2 separate regions of the Homo sapiens genome follow, and region 2 is linked to region 1. The links come from fine-mapping of genetic effects on gene expression. A gene starts in region 1. The other region holds a variant in brackets. All regions are shown on one strand. Distances are from middle to middle.

Region 1 (2,917 bases):
CAGCTAATATTTGTATTTTTAGTACAGATGGGGTTTTGCCATGTTGCCCAGACTGGTCTCGAACTCCCAGTCTCAAGGCATACACCCACCTTGGCCTCCCAAAGTGCTGGGATTATAGGCGTGAGCCACCACGCCTGGCCCAGTCTGTGGCATTTGTTATGACAGCCCAAGCAAAGCAACACACACCTTCCCAGCCTTCATTTCTCATTGGCATGATGCCTCCTCTTGGCCTGCTGCTGATTCCATCCTAATGCCAGACCAACAAGGCTCTGCTCACCCAGCTCTGAGCCTTACCCCAGTGCTGGCTTTGCTCTGCTCTTCCTGATCCTCTGATCTCCTTCTAGTCCTGCCCCAGGGCAACTCCACATCTGGCTATTCCTGGCTCTTACTCTTCTTTTTACCTCAACCCAGACCAGCAGCTCACCAAGCCACCAAGACTCATGGTTCCTCCTGTATGCAGCCCTTGTCTGACAGGCCACGTGGTATTGATCACTTGTGGGGTCAGAGAAAGTGGGAGGAAGTTTGAAGCATTTTAGAGGATGGCAAGAGACGGAGGCCCTTCTCCTTTTTCTCTCATTATCCCCTCCAAGAACTTCCCACAGGTTGATAAATATTGCTATGGTCCAAAACAGAAGGTGCAATTTGGCTCTATTCTCAGATTTTCCTCCTATGGGTTAGTAAAACAGATGGAAGGCTGTCCAAGTCCAAGAGAGAGCCAGACTCATTCAGAGTGATCTTTTCAATGCTCGAAAACCTGGCACAGCGCTGTCTTTACTAATTCTCACCCTGAGAGGAGACCAAAGGACTCATTGGGATAGAGGCCATGTGAGAGTGGGGATGTTAAACCAACAGCTCCCCTAGGTTGAGGCAGGTTTAGGGGTCTGCTTTGTGCACACAGACCCTATTAATATCTTATGACCCACTTGGGATTATTTGGGTGGAATTGTTTGAAGAGGAGAAAAATTCTCTTTGCTTCCTATTAAGATGCCACCAGATGATCCCCTGGCAGAGTTCTTTGGCTCCTTTCTCACAATAATGAAAAAATTATATATACACCTTATTTCCTTTTTAAAGACACTAGATATTGGGATGCCAAGGCTCAGATTGGACTGCGTGCTAAATCTCAAAATTTTCAGACAGTTTAATCTGCATAAAGACAAACAGTTTGGACTCACCTCAATGCACATCTGATCCCAGGAGGTGATGACTTTACAGCCGGCAGAAAACAGCACCACCCAAAAGAAGCAGCTGACGTCAAACGCCATCACAGGCTAGGATTGCTTGGTGGGTTTACCTAATGCTTGGAGCTGAGAAATGGAATCAAACTGTGAAGGCCCTGGCAATTTGGCAGCCAGAGAGGTACTCAGAAGGGTGATCTTGGAACAAGAAATGCTGTTGACTGCTCAGCATTCTGTGGCTCTGTGCTGGAAAAAAAAAAAAAAAAAAAAAAGGAAGTCCCTTTTGCATACCACCCATCTTTGCCAAAAATAACTGAGGACCCAACCCCAGAATGGCCCGTTGCATTTCCTGGCACTGAACATGAATCAGTTGTGCAGTCCTTTTGGGCTGATCACACAGACTCTCATTGTGATGGTTCCAATTGACTTTATGCCAACTTCAAGCATTTGGCCAACTCCAACAGCTTCTGGTCCTTTTCCCCGAGAGAGGCTGTGGAAGCTCTACTCACCAAGGAGGCCACTTTCTTAGTTGTCCTAGGTGAGTGAATAGAAGAGGTGTCAGAGAACATGGAAGGGCAGAGCACTCTGCAGGGGCAGACTGAAGAACTGAGCCCTTCAGTGGCACCTGCTGAGCTGGGAACTGGAGCAGGAGGGAGCAGGCTTGAGAGTGTATCTGCTCCTTGAGCCTCAGCTGCTGCCTTGGCCACCTTGTCCATCCCCACCTCTGGTCTTCGTATAGGGGGAAGATTACTTCATCTCTTGACCTGGCGGTTCAGGCTTGTTAAAGCAGTTGGGGTGGACTCTCTTGTTCCCTCCTAACCTGGCCTGGGGAAGTAGGGGACACTGCCATAGATAGAGCAGCCTGGCTAAAGGAGAGTAGAGTTAGGGATGCCAGCCTTGGCTCTATTTCTTCTTAGAAATAGCTTTGAAGCAGGATTACAATTACCCTTATTATGGAGCAAGATGTGGCAATGATTAAAGAAAGCCAAAGTTCAAACATTCCTCAATAGGCTGCATTTAGCTACCTGTTCTGTCTGTTCTTCAACCCTCTGGCATACAGGATATATTTGGTGTTACTGTTCTCCCACTCCATTTCCAAGAGCCCAGTTCTTAGTATCAGAGTTCACAATGACTTAACTACTGCTACTACTACTACTACCACCACCACCACCACCACCACCTCTACAGTATTACTATGATGAATCAAATGACTATAGTATCTGCCATTTATTGAGTCCTTACTATGTGTCAGACACTGGGTCAGGTTTAATGCAGTTTTTTGCTGCATTTTCCTATCCTCGAATATTTCCATATATTCTATAAGAGAGATATTATTATTTCCCTCATTTTATAGATGTAGAAACTGATGCTTAAGAGAAATTAAATGATCTCTCCAAGCCACACAATTAGAGAGTGGTAGATTAGGGCTTCAGATCCAGAAAATCTCACTGCAGAGACTATGCTGCTACTCTTCACAGTTTAAGAAAGGACTTTGCCTCCTGAAGGAGCTGAAGAGTAGATGGGGCGAAGAATGTTGTTCATCTGGAGATTTCAGAAAAGATGCTAAAAAGCAGAGGGGATTGGAGGAAATATGTACTTGGCAGTCTGCTAGGCCTGCTACACATATTTGGGCTTTTCCTGGTCACCCTTAAAATGCCATCTTCATCAACAAAATCATCTCTGAAGATGCTATCAGCAAGACACAGTCTAAGCAAACCCAGACCAATGACGGACCACCT
Region 2 (2,917 bases), 26 kb before region 1:
AGCTGGGCATAGTGGTGCTCACCTGTAGTCCTAGCTATTTGGGAGTCTTAAGGCAGGAAGATGGCTTCAGCTAGGAATTGGAGACCAACCTGGGCAACATAGACCCTATCTCTACAAAAACTTGAAAAGTTAGCTGGGTGTGGTGGTGTACGCCTATTGTCCCAACTACTCAGGAGGCTGAGGTAGGAGAATTACTTAAACCCATAAGTTCAAGGCTGCAGTGAACAAGCTATAATTGTGCCATTGCATTCCAGCCTGGGCAACAGAGTGAGACCCTATCTCCAAAAAAAAGAAAAAAAAAAAAGATTAAGTCCTCTTTTAACTTCTTCCTATTTTTTTCTACCAACCTTTTTCCTTGCCTGCAGAACTTACCAACTTCTACACTCACACTCACCATCTTCCCACACTCAGGGGGTCTTGATTCTCCTTTCTCTGTGACACCACCACCACCTCCTCTCATTCTCTCACGAACTTGCTCCATCAATTACCATAGTCTGCCTCAGCATTCTCTTTTTCCTCCCCAACTGTCTCTTTCCTTTCAGAAAACCCTTTCTTTACCTGGCCTTTTCCCTCTGTCCCTTCTCAGGTGACATCCTACAAGAGGAGTCTGCACTTAGTATTTTTGGGTCTTCACCCCTTTGAAACCTGGCTCTGTCACCCATGCCATCAACATCGCTCTGGTAGAGGTCACCAGTGACACAGCTGACTCTAAAGCCCTCTTGTCAAGACATCACTTCAGTAGACCATCTTGAGAACCGGTCTGTCCCTGACAGCCCTCTCTCCTAGTTGTCTTCAACCTGTTCTTTTTCTCTCTTTAGAGAATTTCTTCCTTGTCCTCTTGTCCCTTTAAATACTGGTGTTTCCTGGGTTCGTCCTTGGTCCCTGAGCATTTCAACTTGGCTCAGGCACCTCACACTCAAAATGTCCAAAAATATGCTTATTTTGGTGCCCCTTCTTTCAAAGCTCACTGTATTCCCCATCTTTTCTCCGAGTCAGATCCTAGATTTCTGCCTAAACTCTTCTTTCTTGCCTTACATCTTAAAAAAAAAAAAAAAAAAAAAAAAGCTTCACTGATTTCACAATATACTCTTCTGTGCAATCCATGTCCCGTCACTATTGTGCTACTGGCAGCCTTAGTTTGGTCTCTATCATAGTCTCTCTCCAGATGACCTCAACAGCCTCCTAACTGGTTTTCTTGCCTTCGCTCTTACCCCTTCTAGTCTGTTCTTCACAATGTCCCTAGAGTGATGTTGCTCAAGTGTAAGCACACCATGTTACTACCCTGCTTTAAACCTTTAAGTAGCACCCATATTCTTCGGGTAAAGGCCAGTTCCTTAAATGTATCCTTACCCTAGATAACTCCAGCTCAGCATGTGTGCTGGACTCAGACATCTGGAGGAAGCCTTTTGGAAAGGCCTGGACCGACCTGTGGACTGTCTTTGCTTCACTGTGTATCTGCCTCATGGCACTCACTGCGTTATTTTGGAGTTACCTTTCTACATGTGTATCTTCTTTGCTAGACTTCAAGCTCCCTGGTTCTCTGTCTTGTTTTTTACTTCTAGGACAAAGCACATCGGAGACATCAATAAGTATTTGCTGATATGGTTAGGCTTTGTGTCTCCACCCAAATTTCCTCTTAAATTGTAACCCCCATAATTCCCACGTGTCAAGGGAGAGACGAGGTGGAGTAACTGAATCATGGGGGCAGTTTCCCTCATGCTGTTCTCATGAGAACTGATGGTTTTATAAGGGGCTCTTCCCCACCCTTCGCTCAGCACTTCTTTCTGCCGCTGTGTGAAGAAGGTGGCTTGCTTCCCCTTTGCCTTCTGCCATGATTGTCA[A/G]TTTCCTGAGGCCTCCCCAGCCATGCTGAACTACGAGTCAATTAAACCTCTTTCCTTTATACATTACCCAGTCTTGAGCAGTTCTTTATAGCAGTGTGAGAACGGACTAATACATTTGCTGGACCGAATTGAACAAGAAAGGAAGTATTAGTAGTCGCTACTGTTTGTAGCACATTTACTAGAAGCCAAGTAACACACTAAATACTTTATTTCCATCTTCTTATTTAATCTCCGTGCCATTTGAACTATACGTTGCTTCATTTTATAAATTAGGAAGCCAAAACTTGGAAAGAGGTTAAGTGACTAACCCTCGTGATTGGCAGGACTGAGGCTTGAACTCAAGCGATCTGACTGGACAGCCCATACATTTAACCTCTACCATTAGACGAGACCTTCTTCCTCCCACACACTATTCTACTACAATATAAATTGCAAGATGAAATGGGACAGAATCATGACAGTGTTTTTCACTGCCTGCGTGATGTAGTTTTCCCTGCTTAGAGGAACCCACTCTGCTAAGATTCACAGTTTTTAAAAGTAAGTATGGAAATGGTCATTTTAATGGGACTTGGTATCATGCTATGCAGAAAAGTCGGTCTTCACCATAAAAGAAAAAACCCACAAAGGATATTAAGTACACACATCACAGAGCCAATAATGGCCATAGCAAGAGCTATTAAGTGAACAACCAGTTTAGAGCGAATACATAAAAGAAACTTTAAATGAAAAGCAAGAGATTGAAGTTTTAAAGGTATTTACCTTGAGCTCGACCAGGTAAAACTAATGAGGTCATTAAAGGGCAAACAATTAGACATGCTCTTGTGGGTCTGTCCAGTCTGGGGCACAATTTCTTGTACTGTATTTTCAGCATCCACGTAGTGTTATCTTATTTGGGATTTTAAAAAATTGAAATGTAGCTAAATATGTGTTTGGGTGTATAATATTTCCCTAATAAACTGAGGGCTACCTCTTTTAAGCCCAAGGCATTTTTTTAAAGAGACATGGGTTGCCCATGCTGGCCTCAAACCCCTGGGCTCAAGGGATCCTCTCTGCTCAGCCTCTCGAGTACCTGGGAC

Which allele goes with the higher level. Positions count from the first base shown, and alleles are read on the strand shown. Sizes are in standard deviations (SD) of each study's normalised expression.
For the expression in lymphoblastoid cells of the gene that starts at base 1,423 in region 1, A is the high allele of the variant in region 2 and G is the other (small effect, 0.32 SD a copy in TwinsUK).

What was found. PIP is the estimated chance that this variant, and not a neighbour inherited with it, causes the effect. A credible set is the group of variants that fine-mapping cannot tell apart.
Region 2: its variant is the best candidate, but not a certain one, in a credible set for the expression of CD180 in lymphoblastoid cells (TwinsUK, PIP 0.55).

The regions. Positions count from the first base shown.
Region 1 is chr5:67,195,377-67,198,293 of GRCh38, forward strand. CD180 (CD180 molecule) reads right to left here and starts at 1,423. Exons shown (of 3, transcript NM_005582.3): 1 at 1,176-1,423. The coding sequence starts at 1,265. RefSeq lists an enhancer at 247-396.
Region 2 is chr5:67,169,777-67,172,693 of GRCh38, forward strand. No RefSeq gene overlaps it. Among named protein-coding and RNA genes, the nearest start is that of CD180, 26 kb to the right of the region's middle. The variant A/G (reference allele first, on the strand shown) is at 1,842.